Linked DNA regions of Homo sapiens: region 1 is linked to region 2. A link means that fine-mapping ties the variant in region 2 to the expression of a gene that starts in the linked region. Tissue or cell type: whole blood. Region 2 holds a variant in brackets; the other region holds the start of a gene. All regions are shown on one strand. Distances are between the middles of the regions.

Region 1 (9,932 bases), 44 kb before region 2:
GTTTTAGCAAAGAGACTGGCGGCATTTTGCCCCTGCCCTAGAGATCTGTGGAACTTTGAACTTGAGAGAGATGATTTAGGGTATCTGGTAGAAGAAATTTCTAAGCAGCAAAGCATTCAAGAGGTAACTTGCAGGCTGGGAGCGGTGGCTCAAGCCTGTAATCTCAGCACTTTGGGAAGCCAAGGTGGGCAGATTACCTGAGGTCAGGAGTTCAAGACCAGCCTGACCAACATGGTGAAACCCTATCTCTACCAAAAATACAAAAAATTAGCCATGTGCAATGGCGTGCACCTGGTGCCAGCTACTCAGGAGGCTGAGACAGAAGAACCGCTTGAACCCAGGAGGCGGAGGTTGCAGTGAGCTGAGATCACACCACTGCACTCCAGCCTGGGCAACAGAGCAAGACTCTGTCTCAAAAAAAAAAAAAAAAAAAAAAAAAGAAAAGAAAAGAAAAAAATAAGAAGTAAATTGTAATAGAAAGAAAAGCCCATTTTCTGGGGAGAAATTCAAGCCGGCTGCAGAAATTTGCATTACGTAGCAAGGAGCCTAATGTTAATCCCCAAGACCATGGAGGAAATGTCTCCAGGCCATGTCAGAGAACTTCCTGGCAGCCCCTTCCATCACAGGTCCAGAGGTCCAGGAGGAAAAAGTGGTTTTGTGGGCCAGGCCCTGGGTTCCTGTGCTGTGTGCATCCTAGGGAGTTGGTGTTCTGTGTCCCAGCTGCTCCAGCCATGGCTGAAAGGCACCAACACAGAGCTCAGGCTGTGGTTTCAGAGGGTGGAAGCCCCAAGCCTTGGCAGCTTCCATGTGGTGTTGAGCCTGTGGGTGCACAGAAGTCAAGAATTCAGGTTTGGGAACCTCTGCCTAGATTTCAGAAGATGTTTGGAAATGCCTGGATGCCCAGGCAAAAGTTTGCTGCAGGGGCAGGGCCCTCATGGAGAACCTCTGCTAGGGTGGTGCAGAAGGGAAATGTGGGGTTCAGAGCCCCCACACAGAGTCCCTACTGGGGTACTGCCTAGTGGAGCTGTGAGAAGAGGGCCACCATCCTCCAGACTCTGAAATGGTAGATCCACTGACAGCTTGCACTGTGTGCCTGGAAAAGCCACAGATACTCACCACCAGCCCGTGAAAGCAGCCAGGAGGAAGCCTGTACCCTGCAAAGCCACAGGAGTGGAGCTGCCCAAGATCATGGGAACCCATCTCTTGCATCAGCGTGACCTGGATGTGAGACCCGGAGTCAAAGGAGATCATTTTGGAGCTTTAAAATTTGACTGCCCCACTGGATTTCAGACTTGCATGGGCCCTGTAACCCCTTTGTTTTGGCCAATTTCCCCCATTTGGAACGGCTGTATTTACCCAATACCTGCATCCCCACTGTATCTAGGAAGTAACTAGCTTGCTTTTGATTTTACAGGCTCATAGGCAGAAGGGACTTGCCTTGTCTCAGACAAGACTTTGGACTGTGGAATTTTGGGTTAATTCTGAAATTAGCTAAGACTTTGGGGGACTGTTGGGAAGGCATGATTGGTTTTGAAATGTGAGGACGTGAGATTTGGAGGGGCCGGGGCAAAATGATATGGTTTGGCTGTGTCCCCACCAAAATCTGAACTTGATTTGTATCTCCCAGAATTCCCACGTGTTGTGAGTGGGACCCAAGAGGAGGTCATTGAGTCATGGGGGCCAGTCTTTCCTACGCTATTCTTATAATAGTGAATAAGTCTCACGAGATCTGAAGGGTTTATCAGGGGTTTCCGCTTTTGTTTCTTCCTCACTTTCTCTTGCCACTGCCATGTAAGAAGTGTCTTTCACCTCCCGCCATGATTCCAAGGCCTCCTCAGCCATGTGGAACTGTAAGTCCAATTAAACCTCTTTTTGTTCTCAGTTTCGGGTATGTCTTTATCAGCAGTGTGAAAACGGACTAATACATATATCCATTAAATATATATCTATACTTAACCACTTCTCTCCACCTCCACTGCTCCACTCTAAGCCACCACCATCACTTGCTTGGACTACTGCAGTAGTGTTCTCCCTGATCGCCTGGCTTCTACTATCATTCCCTGCCCATAGCAGTCAGGGACCATGTTAAATCTAACACAGACCATGTCCCTCCTCTGCTCAAAACCCTCCCATGGCTCCTCATTCTTCTTAGAGTAAAAGCAAAATCTTTCCTCTGGTCCTTAAGCCCCTAGGTCACCTGGCTTTCTGGCTTTGCCAATAATCTCTGATCTATTGTGTTTTTTTTTTTGTTTTTGTTTTTTTTTTGTTTGACAGAGTCTTGCTCTGTCACCCAGGCTGGAGTGCAGTGGTGCAATCTCAGCTCATTGCAACCTCTGCCTCCTGGGTTCAAGTGATTCTCCTGTCTCAGCCTCCCAAGTAACTGGGATTACAGGTGTACACCACCATGCCTGGCTAATTTTTTTTTTTTTTTTTTTTTGTATTTTTAGTAGAGACCGGGTTTCACCATGTTGGCTAGGCTGGTCTCGAACTCCTGACCTCAAGTGATCTACCTGCCTCGGCCTCCCAAAGTGCTGGGATTATAGGCGTGAGCCACTGCGCCCAGCCAGCTGACCTATTTTCCTACTATTCTTCCCATTGCTCACTTGGCTCCACTGGTCTCCTCGTTGTTCTTCAAACATGCCCAGGATGGCCCCATTTCAGGGCTTTTGCACTTGCTGTTCCCTCTGCCTGGGACCTCCTTCTCCCAGATAACCACATGGCTCCCTCCCTCATTCCTCCAGGTCTGTCCTCAGAGAGGCCTTCCCTGACCACCTTGTCTAAAAGCTGCACTTCCAGCTTGGGCAAGATAGCAAGACCCCCCCGATCTCTACAAAAAATTAAAAAAAATTAGCCGGGTGTGGTGGTACACACCTGTAGTCCCAACTACTTGGGAGGCTGAGGTGGGAGGCTCGGTTGAACCCAGGAGTTCAGGTTACAATGAGCTGTGATTGTGCCACTGCACCCCAACCTGGGTGACAAAAAAACACAAAAAACAAAAAACAAAAACAAAAAAACTGCACTCCCAGGCTTTCTGCCCCATTGCCTTAGCGTACAGTCCTAGCATGAATCACTTCCAGAACTCATTTGTGTTGTCTTGATTCCTGGCTGCACCTGCTTACCTGGTTCAGGTACAGTGCCTGGCACACAGTAGGCGCTTAGTGAGAGGCTGTACAATGGAGAGCTGACCCTGGTCTGTCCTGTTCTTCCTGCTTTCAGGCCAGGACTTAATAGTGATTGGGAGGTGGCGGGTGGTGGAGAAGAGGCGGCAGGAACAGGAAGGAAGGGTTCAAGGAGGTGGGCAGGGCAAAAACAACAGCAATTCCTATTTCTTGAGAGCTTTCTGTTGTGCCGTGCACTTTACATATCATGATGGTCTTTATTTTCCGGATGAGGAAACGGAGGCTTAGAGAAGTGAAATGATTTCTCTAAGCTCACACAGTGTTCAGTGGCCTAGTGCGACTCGAACTCAAGTCTGCCTAATTCCAGAACTTCCTCTCTTCACCTGGAGCCAGGGGAAGCTTGCGAGGCGCCCTGTCCGTATGGAACAGTGCTGTACGCAAATGTCCTGGATTCAGCTGTTTTTTCTGCCACTCACACATTTTTCAGGAATTAGAGCTATTTTTCTAATTTAACTGGGCATTAAATTTGCTAAACCTGGCAACCCAGGTTTAGCAAATATTTTTATTATTTGTAGAGATGGTGGTCTCCCTCTGCTGCCCAGGCTGGTCTTGAACTACTAGGCTCAGGCAATCCTCCTGCCTCGTCCTGGGGGGAGTTCGGACTTAAGCCTAGGACTTCAGCGAATGGCCCGCCCAGGACCCCCAAATGCTTTTGCAGGCTAATCCACGACCTGGGCCAGTCCTTACCTTTGGAATCGCAATGAGCTTCCCGGGCTCCAATCCGCTTTTCTGGGCTAGGGAACTGGGGAGTCGCGAGCCAGGAGCGGACCCTTTAAGAGTGATTTCGAGGGCGGGCTCACGGGGGCGTGCCGGTTCGGGGCCTGCCAATCGGGAGGTGGGAAGAACGCGGGGGCGGGCCCGGCGCGAGCAGGCTGGGAAGGGTTAAAGGGGCGCGCCCGTGGGTCGCGGACTGTCCGGTTGCTCCCGCCTCCTTCCGTCGGATCCGCGCTCTCCCGCGGCTGCGCCGGCCCGGCCGCCCAGGAGACAAAGCGCTGCCGCCGCCGTCGCCGCCACCGGGCCAGTCCCGAACCATGGCCGGGCCACCCCGCAACCTCGCGCCTCCCGTCCCGTCGCCGCCCTAGGCCTGCGCTGCGAGGTAAGGCGGGCCTGGCGGGGGGACATGCACGAGGACATGGGACCCGGGTCGGGCCGCCCTGGGCCTCGGGGTCCCCCGGCCACCTGGAGAGCGCGTTGCGGGGATCTTCCCCGCTGGGACTCCGCACCAGTGGTGACTTCTCCAGCTGCCGAGGCGAACTTGGCCAATGACCACCCTCCCCTCTCTCAGCCCATAGGGACGTCTGCCGCTGGTGGGGACTGCGGATAAGCCCCCCATTCTGCCGCTGATCACCCATCTGGGGCTCTGGCTGTCCTTTAAGGAACTTAAGAGAGCTCCCACGCACAACACACAAAGGGACAGAGAGCAGCCGGGAGCAGGGCCACACCTGGAGCAGCAGCCCCTGCCGTGGACAAGGGGGCTGCCTGTGTCTGGACGGCGGTGCTGGCGTGTCTCTGGGGTCCCTGCTGGGGCGGTGACGGCCAGGCTGCTCTTTAGTGTTCTTGGCACACATGTTTTTCAGCCTGTGCCTGCCACACCCTCTTCCCCACGCCCGCTGCTGGGGGACACTGAGGGCAGCTGGATTCAACCCCAGGACCTGCGGTACTGGCTTCTTTTCGTTGATGTGAGTGCCAAAATGCCATGCTTCAGTCTCCCAGGAGACCTGGGTTCCGGGGCCAGCTGTGCCCCTGGAGATCTTGGATGAATTATTTGCCTTTTTGACAGCTCTTTCCCTGAAAGCTCACTACCCACCAAGTATTTTGCAAAATGACTCTTCAGGAGTCAATTCACTCAGCCCTTAGAGGGATGGAAGTTAACGTCACCATTTTGCAGATGAGGCTGAGAAAAAACTCCGACTCACAGCAGCTAATATTTGCAATCCATTTCCCATAGTTTGCCAGTGGGTTTTCCTTCTTTTAGCTCATGAACCCTCGCCACACAGCCCAATTTAACAGATGAGGACACTGAGACTTGGAAAGGTGAAACGACTTGTCCAAGGTCCTCCAGCCTGGACCTGCGGAGGCAGGAACTTTGCCTTGGGAGCAGAGCTGGGCCAGGCTCCCTCCAGCTTCCTGTCTGGCCATGGGCTGTTGAATCAGCAGCAGTGCCCACAGTGGACTCTGAACTTCTTGGAAAACAGTGTGGGGAGATAAGGCAGGGGCCAGGCCTTCGCTCCAGGCAAGGCTGGCGCCTGTGCCCCTGCAGCTTCCTGTCTTCCCAGTTCTGGTGGAGGCAGGGGTCATGGGCAGAGCTGGGTCCTGTGCCTGCTGGTGACCTTGAACCAGTTTGGCCTCTATCTAGGCAGTCGGGGGAGGAGGGTTGCTGAGCAGGAGGGAAGTTGCTATTCCTTTGGCCTTGATGGGGTGGAGAGACCCCAAGATCAGCCCCTTTATTTGGGTGGCTTGCCTGGAGCATGTGATTCTGGGCACAGTTGTATGCCTCTAGCCAACTTATTGAATCTCCCTGTGTCCATTTCCACATCTGTGAATGTGGGGTGAGATCCCTTGTCTTGGGGCTGTTGAAAGGTTTCAGAAGATACTGCAGAATGAATCAAACAGCTGTGTGAGTACCTACTGCATGCCAGGCACTAGAATTCAGACCACAAACGCCCCTGCAGGCAGAAATGACCCAGGTATTAATTTCAGGTGGAGGCACAGGAGAGGGACTGGGGGGCCTCTTGTGCATAGGGTGGCCAGGGACCACCTCTCTGAGGAGGTGACAGCTAGGCTGAGACCAAAGGATGGGGAGCTGGCCTTGTGAAGACCTGCAGGCAGACAGCCGGGACCAAGTCTTGGAGGTGGGGATGTGTCTGGTGTATTTGAGGAACAGAAAGGAGGCCAGGATGGCTGGAGCTGAGTGAACAAGGGGGAAAGAGGTAGGGAAAGGGAACTTGGAAGCCAAGGGAGGCTTGGATTTTTTTTTTTTTTTTTTTGAGACAGAATCTCACTATGTCACCCCCCAAGTTCAAGGGGTCCTTCCATGTTAGCCTCCCAGATAGCTAGGACTAGAGGCTTGTATCACCATGCCCAGCTATTTTTTTTTCTATTTTTTATAGAGATAGGGTCTTGCTATGTTGTCCAGGCTGGTCTCTAACTCAAGCAATCCTACCCCCTCAGCCTCCCAAAGTGCCAGCATTACAGGTGTGAGCCACCGCACCCTGCCTAAGGATTTAATTTTATGCTGAGAGAAGTAGGGAGCCATGGGAGGGTTTAGAGCAGAGGAGGAGTGTGATTGGACTTAATTTTCACAGGATCCATCTGTGGGAAGTGGATTTCAGTGTGGCTCGGAGAAGAGCTTAGGAAGGAGGCTTGGATCTTACCTTGAGGAACATGGACAGGGAGGGGCAAGGAGACTTATGAGGAGGCTACAGCAGCCATCCCAGTGAATGGTGATGGGGCCTAGAATGGGGAGGTGGAGTGGACAGATTAGGCAACTGATTTGGAAGACGCTGGAGAGGGGGATCAACTGGACTTGATGTGCGATCAGATGCGGGGGTGAGAGGGAAACCAAGGGCCATTTGCTGAGATCGGAAGCACAACACAGGGATGTTTGGGGAAAAGCCAAGAAAAATGTGAACTGCAACCGCGCTCAGCAGGCACTGTGTGCCTGGCCCCATGCTCCGCAAAGTCCATATAGTCACTGTATCATTGTCACAACAGCCCTGACTTAGGCACTGTTACGATCCCATTTTACAGATGCAGAAACAGAGGCCCAGAGAGATGAATAGCCTGCCTGGGGTCCCCCAGCCCAGATGCTGCAGAGCTGACATTTGAATCCAGAGAAGAGCGAGCTGAGGCTGGAGCTGAGCAGAGGGCAGGGAGGCAAGTGGTGGCCTGAGAGGTAGGAGCGGAACTGGGCAAGCAGGGCGGGAGGGTCCTGTGAGAACCGGGGCCAGCATCCACATGGGAGTTGATGGGTGGTGGTGTGGGGAATGCGTGAATCCCTGCGGCTTAGAGAGGGACAGCTGTAGCTGAGAGGCAGGGTGGGGATTCAACACCTGGAGACTTTGGGGGCTCTGGCCTTGGCCTCCCACTAGGTCAGGACAAACTGACCTCAGTTTCTTTTTTTATTTTAAGTTCCATGATACATGTGCAGAACATGCAGGCTTGTCACATAGGTATACGTGTGCCATGGTGGCTTGCTGCACCATTGACCCGTTCTCTAAGTTCCCTCCCCTCACCCCCGATCCCCCAACAGGCCCCGATATGTGTTCTGCCCCTCCCTGTGTCCATGTGTCTCATTGTTCAACTCCCACTTATGAGTAAGAACATGCGGTATTTGGTTTTCTGTTCCTGTGTTAGTTTGCTGAGGATGATGGCTTCCAGCTCCATCTATTTCCCCGCAAAGGACATGATCTCATTCCTTTTTATGGCTGGATAGTTTTCCATGGTGTGTATGTACCACATTTCCTTTATTCAGTCTATCATTGATGGGCATTTGGGTTGGTTGATCTCAGTTTCTAAGTCACAACTCATGTTCCGTCTTCTAGGAAGCCTTCCCTGACTGCCTATGTGGCTGACAGGAGGTGGCAAGGACAACCCCCTCCACCCTAGGACAGGTAGTCTGGCAGGGCCTCACTGCGGTCACCTGCTCCCAGGAGAGCCACCACCCTGACCTCATTCCACCAGGCTCTGAGAAAGACACCACCCAGGCAGGGGAATGAACACTGAGTGCCTACTGCGTACCAGGACTTTATATCCTTTGCTTCTTGAAAAATGTAGCTACCATCCTATGCAGGCTGAGGCTCTGCAGTGGGAGATAAGGCAGGCTCTCAAAATGGCCATGGAAAACCCCAAGGGAAGGTGGCCAGGCCAGGGACGCAGATGCCACCTCCCGACAAGTCCTTCCTGGCCAGCGTTGCCCCATCATATACTCCTTGGGGGAAGGTGGATGGGGTCACTGTGGCCGATGGCATGGAGTTAGAGTCCTCTATGCTAAATGGCACGGGTCGACCCCCTGCCCCTCCTTCCTGTAAGTCAGCCTAGCCCTGGGCCTGCATCTTTCCCCAAATTCTTTCTTTTTTTTTGAGACGGAGTCTGGCTCTGTCCCCAGGCTGGAGTGTAGTAGTGCAATCTCGGCTGACTGCAACTTCTGTCTCCTGGGTTCAAGCACTTCTCCTGCCTCAGCCTCCCAAGTACCTGGGATTATAGGCACCCCCCACCATGCCTGGCTATTTTTTTTTTTTTTTTGAGATGGAGTCTTGCTCTGTCGCCCAGGCTGGACTGCAATGGCGCAGTCTTGGCTCACTGCAACCTCCGCCTCTTGGGTTCAAGCGATTCTTCTGCCTCAGTCTCCCAAGTAGCTGGGATTATGGGCGTGCACCACCTCACCTGGCTGTTTTTTAGTAGAGATGGGGTTTTGCCATGTTGGCCAGGCTGGTCTCGAACTCCTGACCTCAGGTGAGAAGGATTGGCCTTGGCCTTCCAAAGTGCTGGGATTACAGGCGTGAGCCACTGTGCCCAGCCCCTGTCTTACTATTTTCCATAGAACATGAGACTACCTGGCAGACGTCTTATCTGTTTGTTAACTGTCTGCTCCCTTTCACTTGCCAGTGGCATTTCAACACCACGAGGGCAGGGACCGTGTCCATCTTTTTTTTTTTTTTTGAGACAGAGTGTCACATTATTGCCCGGGCTGGAGTGCAATGGCATAATCTCGGCTCACTGCAACCTCCGCCTCCTGGGTTTAGGTGATTCTCCTGCCTCAGCCTCCCGAGTAGCTGGGATTACAGGCGCCCGCCACCACGCCTGGCTTATTTTTTGTATTTTTAGTAGAGAAGGGGTTTCACTGTGTTGGCCAGGCTGGACGACCCTGTCCATCTTGTTATTGCTATATCCCTAGGCCTGGAACAATGCCTGGCACCCAGTAGATGCTTAATAAACATTTTATGAATGAAATCAATCTCTACAACTCTCCAAAGTTGGTTCTGCTCATCCATTTCATGGATGAACAAACCAAAGTCGAACCACAAAGTCAGGGCTGGGACCTGGCAGGGACTGCAGAAGGCCAGCTGGTCTTGTTCTTGGGATGATGGAAACAGCAGCGCCTGAAATGAGGCCTGGGTTTGGATTTCAGCCCTGCCCAACCTGCTTTGTGACACCAGGGAAGCAGTTAACCTCTCTGTGCCTCTGTTTCCTCATCTGTTGCACTGGTGCCAGGCCAGTCCCTGTGACCTAAGGTCTATTGTGAGATAAAGTGAGTTCATTCCTCTGAAATGTCTGGCATGCAGCAGGAACTCACAACATTATTTCAGGGATACAGGAGGGTAGGAGGTTATGAGGCTGTCTGGGGAGGCCCGTGAGACCCAGGTTCCAGTCCTGTCTCTGCTTCTTAGGAGTTGTGGGCGCATAGGCCAGCTGCTTCCACCCTATGAGCGTCAGTTTCCTCATCTGTGAAACGGGGATGTAGAGTGGCTGCAAGGTCCCCTTGGGGCACTGGGTGACCTAGCGTCAGTGGCCTTGTGCATAACAGCCCTTCTATGGGGTCCAGGCCCCAGGCTCCCCTCCAGGCCCCGCGATTGCCACCATGAAGCTGAACGAGCGCAGCCTGGCCTTCTACGCCACCTGTGACGCCCCGGTGGACAATGCAGGCTTCCTGTACAAGAAGGGTGGGCGGCACGCGGCCTACCACCGGCGCTGGTTCGTGCTGCGCGGGAACATGCTCTTCTACTTCGAGGACGCTGCCAGCCGTGAGCCCGT
Region 2 (9,932 bases):
CCCAGGGAGAACCCCGCCTTTCTGACTCCTCTGACTGAGAATCGCTTCTGACGAAGTGATGGAAAGATTCAGAAATTATCTCTATCAGGAAGACTGTGCTAATTACAGGGCTGGGGGAGTCACATGTGAACAACTGGGTTATTTGGAGAGGGAGGCGACGACAGGGAGAGGCAGGGTCTTCTTGCCTTGCTGGGCTTGTGGGTGGGGTGCCAGACAGGGCTGTGGGCAGCTGGGGACAGGAGAGAGAGCAGAGTGACCAACCCATCCCAGTCTGCCCGCGACTTTCCTTATTTTACTACAGAAAGTTCCAGATCCTGGGAAATCTCTCTCTCCTGGAGAGATAAGGATGGTGCAAGAGAGATGAAAAGAGAGCACTGGAGGGACAGGGAGGGTCAGGGAGGAAGAGACAGAGCAAACAGAGGGGGAGAGAGATGGTGAGAGAGGCAGGGGGAGAGAGAGAGTGGGGTGGGGGGAGGAGAGGGAGAGGGAGAGAGGGAGAGAGGGGGAGAGAGAGAGAGAGAGAGAGAGAGAGAGAGAGATAGGTGAATCAAAAAAATGCAGAGTGAGAAAAACAGAAAGAAGACAATGGAGGTGACTGGGTGCAGTAGCTCATGCCTGTAATCCCAGCACTTTGGGAGGCCAAGGTGGGTGGATCACCTGAGGTCAGGAGTTCAAGACCAGCCTGGCCAACATGGCAAAACCTGTCTCTTCTAAAAATACAAAAAATTAGTTGGGTGCCTGTAATCCCAGCTACTTCGGAGACTGAGGCAGGAGAATTGCTTGAACCCAGGAGCCGGAGGTTACAGTGAGCCGAGATCACACCATTGCACTCCAGCCTGGGCGACAGAGTGAGACTCTGTCACACACACACACACACACACACACACACACACACACACAAAAGAAATTGGAGGAGAGAGACAGAGATCAGGAGAGAGACAGAGGGAAGACAGGGACTGTGTATGGGGACAGGACAGGGCTTCCTTGACTGCTTGAGAATTCTGAGAAACCTCGGATGGAAGGGTCTGGAATACTGATGCTGCCACGGTAGGTAGCGCCGATTATACCCGGGGCTGCGCCTGGCAGTGGACGTGGGGATAAGGGCGTGCTTTATAACCCTCCCGTGGCATCTGGCTCAACTTCAGTAACAGGTATGGTCAGGGTTCCAGTGCCGGTCCCTGCCCGCCCCAGTGGCCAGGGCATACACAAGCGGGGCTTGGACAGGTCCTGACACCCAGCCCCACAGCCAGACTCTGTGGGACTTTGTGGGCAATGGATACACCCTTTTGCTTCCAGGCCCAGTGGGTTATGAACAAGCAGAGGCTGTGAGGGTGGCTCTGCCATCACCACTCTCTCCCTAGGGCCAGCAGCTACAGTAGCCACCTCCAGGCCTGATTCCCTCATCATTATTATTATTGTTTTTGAGACAGGGTCTCGCTCTATTGTCCAGACTGGAAGGCACTCACTCCAGTTCACTGCAGCCTTGACCTCCTAGGCTCAAGCATCCTCATACCTCAGCCTCCTGAGTAGCTGGGACTACAGGCACCTGCCACCATGCCCAGCTGATTTTTGTATTTTTGTAATTTTGTACAGAAGGGGTTTTGCCATGTTGGTCAGGCTGGTCTCAAACTCCTGACCTCAAGTGATCCGCCTGCTTTAGCCTCCCAAAGTCCTGGGACTACAGGTGTGACGCACTGTGCCTAGCCTTGGCTTCCTATTCTGGGAGAGCAGGGGACCCCGCCACCTCTACTCACATCCCTTCCCAGGCCGTGCATGGTCCCACCTCCTAGCCGCTGCCTGTGCCATTCCTTCCACAAGGAGCACCATTCTCCATCTTCTCTGCTTACCTCTATCCTACCTGTGGTCAAATCCTTCCATGACAATAAAATCTACAACCAAAACAATCAGACATTGGGGAAATGCAAATAAAAACTACAGTGAAATACCACTTACACACCCACCAGGATGGCTAGCGTCAACAAATGGGAGATAACCCATGTTGGTAAGGACCTGGAGAAACAGAAACCCTTTGAACTTCCTCAGTAAGTTAAACACAAGAGTTACCATATGATCTAGCCAACTGTACTCCTAGATATATGTTCGAAGAACTGAAAATGGGGGTTCAAACACAAATATGTACACAAATTTTCATAGGCGCATTATTCAAAATAGTCAAAATGGGGTCTATCCATACAATGGAATATCATTTAGCCATAAAAAAGGAAGGAAATTCTGATGCATACTACAGCCTGTATGAGCCTTGAAAACACGTTAACTGAAAGAAGCCAGCCACAGAAGGCCAAGTAGTACAGGATTCCATCTATATGAAACATTCAGAAGAGGCAAATCCAGACAGAAAGAAAGCGGAATTCCAGGAGCTGGGGGGAAGGAGGATGGGCAATGACTGCTGGATGGGTATGGGGTTCCTTTTTGGGGCGGTGGGAATATTCTGGAATTAGACAGAGGTGATGGTCACACGCATTGTGCATGTATTAGATCCACTGAATTGTATACTTCAAAAATGGTTTAAAAGGTACATTTTACGTTATGTGATTTTTGTTTGTTTGTTTCTTTGTTTGAGACAGAGTCTCACTCTGTCACCCAGGCTGCAGTGCAGTGGTGCCATCCGGCTCACTGCAACCTCTGCTTCCTGGGTTCAAGCGATCCTCTCGCCTTAGCCTCCCGAGTAGCTGGGATTACAGATGCGTGCTACCACACCCGGCTAATTTTTGTACTTTTAGGAGAGACGGGATTTCTCCATGTTGGCCAGGCTGGTCTCAAATTCCTGGGCTCAAGTGATCGGCCCGCCTCGGCCTCCCAAAGTGCTGGGATTACAGGTGTGAGCCACGGTGCCCAGCTGTTATGTGAATTTTACTACAGTAAAAAAGTTAGTTAAAACCTAACACCACAGACCAGGCGCAGTGGCTCACCACTCCAGCCTGGGTGACAGAGTGAGACTATGTCTCAAAAAACCAAAAACCAACCCCCTCCATCACCACAACACTATAAAACAAAACCAACCCCTACCCCACCACAAGACTATAAACAAAACCCACCCCTCCCCCAACACAACACTATAAACAAAACCCACCCCTCCCCCACAACACTATAAACAAAACCCACCCCTCCCCCACCACAACACTATAAACAAAACCCACCCCTCCCCCACCACAACACTATAAACAAAACCAACCCCTCCCCCAACACAACACTATAAACAAAACCCACCCCTCCCCCACCACAACACTATAAACAAAACCCACCCCTCCCCCACCACAACACTATAAACAAACCCACCCCTCCCCCACCACAACACTATAAACAAAACCAACCCCTCCCCATCACAACACTATAAACAAACCCACCCCTCCCCCACCCCAACACTATAAACAAAACCCACCCCTCCCCCACCCCAACACTATAAACAAAACCCACCCCTCCCCCACCACAACACTATAAACAAAACCCACCCCTCCCCCACCCCAACACTATAAACAAAACCCACCCCTCCCCCACCACAACACTATAAACAAAACCCACCCCTCCCCCAACACACTATAAACAAAACCCACCCCTCCCCCAACACACTATAAACAAAACCCACCCCTCCCCCAACACAACACTATAAACAAAACCCACCCCTCCCCCAACACAACACTATAAACAAAACCCACCCCTCCCCCACCACACTATAAACAAAACCCACCCCTCCCCCACCACAACACTATAAACAAAACCCACCCCTCCCCCAACACAACACTATAAACAAACCCACCCCTCCCCCACCACAACACTATAAACAAAACCCACCCCTCCCCCACCACAACACTATAAACAAAACCCACCCCTCCCCACCACAACACTATAAACAAAAAAGGATGGAAGTCTTTTCCCAGGTAGGCTCTGGGGTAGACACATTTCGGGACCCTAGGGGGCAGGAAGCCTGATGGCCCACAGCCCAGGGTGCTCATCCTAGGTCTGCCACTCACTGGATGATGGCCTTGGGCAAGTCACTGCACTACCATGCCCCTGGATTTCCTCATCTGTGAAATGGAAATGATAAACAGTCCCTTTGGTGGAGACTGACATGAAGATTACAGGACAAAGCACTTTGACCACTTGGTGCTATGTGTGGTAAGTGGCAGCGGTCATTAGCATTAGCATGGCTGCTTTTTTTTTTTTCTTTTGAGACGGAGTCTCGCTCTGTCGCCCAGGCTGGAGTGCAGTGACAGGATCTCGGCTCATTGCAAGCTCCGCCTCCCGGATTCACACCATTCTCCTGCCTCAGCCTCCTGAGTAGCTGGGACTACAGGCGCCTGCCACCACGCCCGGATAATTTTTTTTTTTTTTTTGTAATTTTAGTAGAGACGGGTTTCACCGAGTTAGCCAGGATGGTCTCAATCTCCTGACCTTGTGATCCGCCTGCCTCAGCCTCCCAAAGTGCTGGGATTACAGGCATGAGGCACCCCACCCGGCCAGCATGGCTGCTTTTAATCCTCGTTACAGCCTTATGGAGAGGAGTTTTTAAATCATTGTATTTATAAACTATTAAAAACATATAGAAATATACAGACAACAATATGTAAGTCCTCCCCTCCCTTCCACCCATCACCGTAATCGATGCTGACACTTCACCCCCGTCACTTCCAATCTTCCTTCTTGTTTTAAAGAAACAGGAAAGGGCCAGGTGCTGTGGCTCACGCCTGTAATCCCAGCACCTTGGGAGGCCAAGGTGGGTGGATCACCTGAGGTCAGGAGTTCAAGACCAGCCTGACCAACATGGAGAAACCCCGTCTCTACTAACAATACAAAATTAGCTGGGCATGGTGGCGCACGCCTGTAACCCCAGCTACTCGGGAGGCTGAGGCAGGAGAATCGCTTGAACCCGGGAGGCAGAGGTTGCAGTGAGCCGAGATCATGCCATTGCACTCCAGCCTGGGCAACAGAGCAAGACTCTGTCTCAAAACAAAAACAAAAACAAAACAAAACAAAAAAAAGAATAGGAAAGGAGCAGAGCAAAGTCACCACGCCCTGCCTCTTCCTGGCCCCCTCCCTGCCCAGTGCAACCTCCCTCCCCAGCTGGGGGGCTGCCTCCTTATGCATTTCTTTCTTTCTTTTTTTTTTTTTTTTGAGACAGAGTCTCACACTGTTGCCCAGGCTGGAGCGCAATGGTGAGGATCTCAGTTCAACTGCAACCTCTGCCTCCCAGGTCATGTGATTCTCCCGCTTCAGTCTCCTAAGCAGCTAAGATTACATGTGCACGCCACCATTTCCAGCTAATTTTTTGTATTTTTAGTAGAGACGGGGTTTCACCATGTTGGCCAGACTGGTCTCGAACTCCTGACTTTGTGATCCGCCCGCCTTGGCCTCCCAAAGTGCTGGGATTACA[G/A]GTGTGAGCCATCACACCCGGCCTATACATTTCATTTTATTAATTCTTTTAGAGATGGTCTCACTTGCCCAGTGCAGTGTGAGATGCACTGCAGTGGCATGATCATAGCTCACTGCAGCCTCGAACTTCTGGGCTTAAGCGATCCTCCTGCCTCACCCTTACAGGCACATGCTACCATACCCGGCTAATTTTTTATTTGTAGAGATGAGGTTTCGCCATGTTGCCAAGGCTGATTTCAAACTCCAGGCTTCAAGAGATCCTCCTGCCTTCACCTCCCAAAGTATTGGGATTACAGGCGTGAGCCACTGTGCTCGGCCTCCTTTTTTCTGAGACAAGGTCTTACTCTGTCACCCAAGCCGGAGTGCAGTGGGATGATCACAGCTCAAGTGATCCTCCTGCCTCAGCCTCCCGAGTAGCTGGGACCACAGGTACGTACCATTCCAACTGATTATTTTTATATTTTGTAGAGACACGGTCTCCCTCTATTGCCCAGGCTGATCTTGAACTCCTGGCTTCAAGAGATCCTCCAGCCTCAGCCTCCCAAAGTGCTGGGATTACAGGCGTGAGCCCCCATGCCTGTCCTCAGCCTCTTTTTAAATATTAATGCATAAGTCTGCAGCCATACAGCTACACCAGTGTGCAGTCTCATCCTGTAGGTGTTAGCTTCTATAGTAAGCACTGTCACTGGGATGGAGGCTTTTGTCACTTGACATTATGTTTCCAGTCCATATTCCTGTTGATATGGGCCTGCTGACCTGGCTCGTTTCTGTGAACCTGAGATATGGTTTTGTCCTATTGACAAGACTGAGCTCAGATCCTTGGACTCAGGGTCTGGCCTCCCCTGGTCTCTGCCCTTCTCAGTGGGCAGGTCTGATGTCCTCTCCTTGCAGTCACGTGCCCTCATTCCAGTGCAGGGCCCGGGTAGGTGCCTCACCAGGGCCCTGGCAGACTTATCCGCTGGTCCCCACAGTGGCAGGGAGCTGGGGCTCCCCCTAGCACTTCCGGACTCTGGGACTTTGGGCATCCCTCTGAGCCTCCGTTTCCTCACCCGGGCAAAGCTGACACTCCAGCCTGCTCGTGCTATCATGGGCAGCTGGGTGGCACTGCCCAAGGCCCTGTGCTAAGAAGGAGTCTGAGGCTGCACGCTAGGTCTTCAGGAAACAGAGCTGAGATCGATGAGCAATTCCAGATGTGGGACTCCACATGCAAAACACATTCTCCACCTGCTCTGAGCACCATGGAGCCACTTGGAGGCTTAAAGCCAGGACCCAGTGCATCAGGCGTGCAGCTTCTAGAAGCCTCCCTCTGGTTGGAGGAAGGAAGAAAGGGGAGCAGAGAAACCCCAGGACCCCCCGCCATGTTCCAGTGCAGCCATGACAGTGACTGGGATGAAAGCCAGGGCAGCAGGGAGGGAGAGATAGGTAGACTCGGGCAGTAAAGCCAGGCGGACATGCCACTGCGCAGGTGGGAAGTTTGCCAGCACCCCCTGAGATGCTCCTGCCCGCACTCACCCTGGGAGGCACCAGGCTGCTGGCCCACTGCCTGGCCGAGCTGGTCAGAGAGCCACAGCTGCATGCGGATGAAGGGCTCCCGCCCCTTCTGCGTCAGCTTGCTCCATGGCTTCGGCCGGGACAGCATGTCGCTCACGCTGCCCTGTGACAGGCCCAGCACCTGCGAGGGGCGGGCCAGGGGGGTAGGTCAGCAGGCCCCTGGGACATGGGCCTGGCCCTCACTCTCCTCCCCAACCTTTTTTTTTTTTTTTTTTTTTTTGAGGCAGAGTCTCGCTTTGTCTGTCGCCCAGGATGGAGTGCAGTGGCACCATCTCAGCTCACTGCAAACTCCGCCTCCCAGGTTCAAATGATTCTCCTGCCTCAGCCTCCTTAGTAGTTGGGACTTGTACCAGGCTGGTGCACGTCTGGCTAATTTTTGTATTTTTAGTAGAGATGGGGTTTTGCCACATTGGCCAGGCTGGTTTCGAACTCCTGACCTCAAGTGATCCACCCAACTCAGCCTCCCACAGTGTTGGGATTATAGGTGTGAGCCACCATGCCCAGCCTCCCATCCCCTCCCCTCCCCTCTGTTGGAGTCCAGGCGGCCTTCATTTGTTCCTCATAGGTGCCTGCCATGTGCTGTTGCTGTGCCCTTCCCCTCCAGTACCCTCCCTAATGTCCCTACATGTAAAAATCCTTCAGTGCCCCCCTCCTCCAGGAAGCCTTCCCTGACCTCCCACTTAAGTCATTTCTCCCTCCTCCGAGCTTGCCTGGCCCTTTGCCTATTCCCTTGCTAAAGGTAGAGGTGACACTTAAAACTGGCATTGCAGGGGCACCAACCAATCAGGAAACACTGAGGTCCCCTGGCTAGGGTGAGCTTTATTTAACCCTTTCTTTTTAAATTTTTATTTATTTTTGGGGGGATGAGGTCTTGCTCTGTTGCCCAGGCTGGAGTGCACTGGTGTGATCATGGCTCACTGTAGCCTCGACCACCTGGGTTCAAGCAATTCTCCCACCTCAGCCTCCTGAGTAGCTGTGCACCACCACACTTGGCTAATTTTTTTTATTTTGTAGAGATGGGGGTCTTGCTACATTGCCCAGGCTGATCCCAAACACTTTTTTTTTTTTCTTTTGAGATGGAGTATCGTTCTGTCACCCAGGCTGGAGCACAGTAGCGAGATCTTGGCTCGCTGCAACCCCTGCCTCCCAGGTTCAAGTGATGCTCCTGCCTCAGTCTCCTAAGTAGCCATGACTATACCGGCACAGGACACCAAGCCCAGCTAATTTTTATATTTTTAGTAGAGATGGGGTTTCACCATGTTGGCCAGGATGGTCTTGATCTCTTGATCTCATGATCTGCCCGCCTCAGCCTCCCAAAGTGCTGGGATTACAGGTGTGAGCCACCGTGCCCAGCTTAATTTTTGTATTTTTTAGTAGAGACGGGGTTTCACCACGTTGGCCAGGCTGGTCTCAAACTTCTGGGCTCAAGAGATCTTCCCACCTCCGTCTCCCAAAGTGCTGGGATTACAGGCGTGAGCCACCAAGTCCTGCCACTTAACCCTTTAGTGGCTGGACCTCAGGCGATCTGGAGGGGCCTGGAGGAGGGGAGTTAAGTGGCTGTTTGCTGGCCAGGATGGAAGCATTTCCTGGTTTTAACAACCACGGAGCAGAACAGTGGCCCTCCTTCCTGCGGGACCCAGGGACAGCAGGACTCAGGAATGAAGGGCCTGGGCCCCTGGGGTCCCGCCAGCCTGCTTGGGTGGGCATCCTACTTCTCCGACATCTTCTCCCAGAGCCCAGACACCGGGGGCCCGCCCTGCACTCACCTTCTCCCCGAAGATCCTCTGGCAGATGCCGTTCTTGGCCAGCTTCTCCTTGACCTGGCGGGTGAGCTCCAGCGTGTCTACCTCACGGTACATGTACAGCTCGTACTGCTCGGGGGTCAGCGGCGGCACGGTGGGCTTCAGGGTGCGCGGCACGTAGGCCGGGTAGTAGGGCAGCCGCGCGCCCGCCTCGGCCGTCGCGCCCTCAGCCTTGAGCTCGCCCGTCCTGGGGGGTTCGTCCTCCGCCCCTGCCGCCGCCTCGTCCTCGGGGGGCACAGGGGCCTCGTCCCCGCGGGGCCAGGCGCGGCCGTTGGGCTGGCCAGAGTAGCCAGAGGAGGAGGAGGAGGACAGCGAGGGCGACACGGAGGCGTAGGGGCGGCTGAGCAGGCCGCGGTCGGAGGCCCAGTGGTGGTCGAAGTAGCCGGCGTCGCCGATCTCGGACTTGACCTTGCGGATGATGCTCTGCACGAAGGCGGCGGGGGACAGGACCGGGAGCGGCGCCTGCGCGGGGCCCCCGCTGCCCTCCTCCTGCTTCACCAAGGCCGGGGCCCCGTTCTGGCTCGCGGTGGCCAGTGATGGCCGCTCCGGGGGCGAGGGGGGCACCGAGCGGCCCCTGGGCGCCACCTCCATCTCCAGCAGCGCCTGCTGTTGCGCCTGCATCTCACGGCGTGCCTGCTCCAGGATGCTCTTGATGGCGTCCTCCGAGGTGCTGGCGGGGGTCGTGCCGTTGGCGATGCTCAGCGGGGCCACCGAGGTCTTGGGCTCGCCTGCGGGGAGGGGGACAGGACGGCCCGAGGCCCAGGGTCAGGGCTCGGCATGCAGGGGACGATGTTCACAGCATCCCTGTTGATGCCAGCACGGTGTCCAGGCAACCTCTGTGTCCAGCAACTGGGGATTGGCTAACTAAATTATGATCCCTCCCTGTGGCAGAATATTAGGCAGCCACCCAAAATTCGGTTGACAGTGAGGTTTTGGCATATGCAGAGAACATGCTCATGCGGATAATGCAATGCAAACACAGACCTGACTTTTGTTTTGTTTTGTTTTGAGATGGAGTCTCACTCTGGTGCTCAGGATGGAGTGCAATGGCACGATCTCAGCTCACTGCAACCTCTGCCTCCCCACTTCCAGCAATTCTCCTACCTCAGCCTCCTGAGTAGCTGGGATTACAGGTGTGCACCACCATGCCCAGCTATTTAGCTTTAGTAGAGACAGGGTTTTGCCATGTTG

What was found. PIP is the estimated chance that this variant, and not a neighbour inherited with it, causes the effect.
Region 1: PHETA1 starts here. The variant in region 2 is fine-mapped to the expression of PHETA1 in whole blood (TOPMed, PIP above 0.99).

Annotation. Positions count from the first base shown.
Region 1 is chr12:111,363,255-111,373,186 of GRCh38, reverse strand. It overlaps PHETA1 (PH domain containing endocytic trafficking adaptor 1), which reads left to right and starts at 4,092. Exons shown (of 3, transcript NM_144671.6): 1 at 4,092-4,275; 2 at 6,930-7,074; 3 at 9,724-9,932. The coding sequence starts at 9,760. LINC02356 (long intergenic non-protein coding RNA 2356) reads right to left here and starts at 3,926. Exons shown (of 4, transcript NR_187522.1): 1 at 3,867-3,926; 2 at 1,117-1,218. RefSeq lists a silencer at 3,922-4,501.
Region 2 is chr12:111,319,549-111,329,480 of GRCh38, reverse strand. It overlaps CUX2 (cut like homeobox 2), which reads right to left. Exons shown (of 22, transcript NM_015267.4): 17 at 8,706-9,469; 18 at 6,901-7,060. It overlaps LOC105369983 (a long non-coding RNA gene), which reads left to right and starts at 9,319. Exons shown (of 4, transcript XR_945341.2): 1 at 9,319-9,408. The variant G/A (reference allele first, on the strand shown) is at 5,390.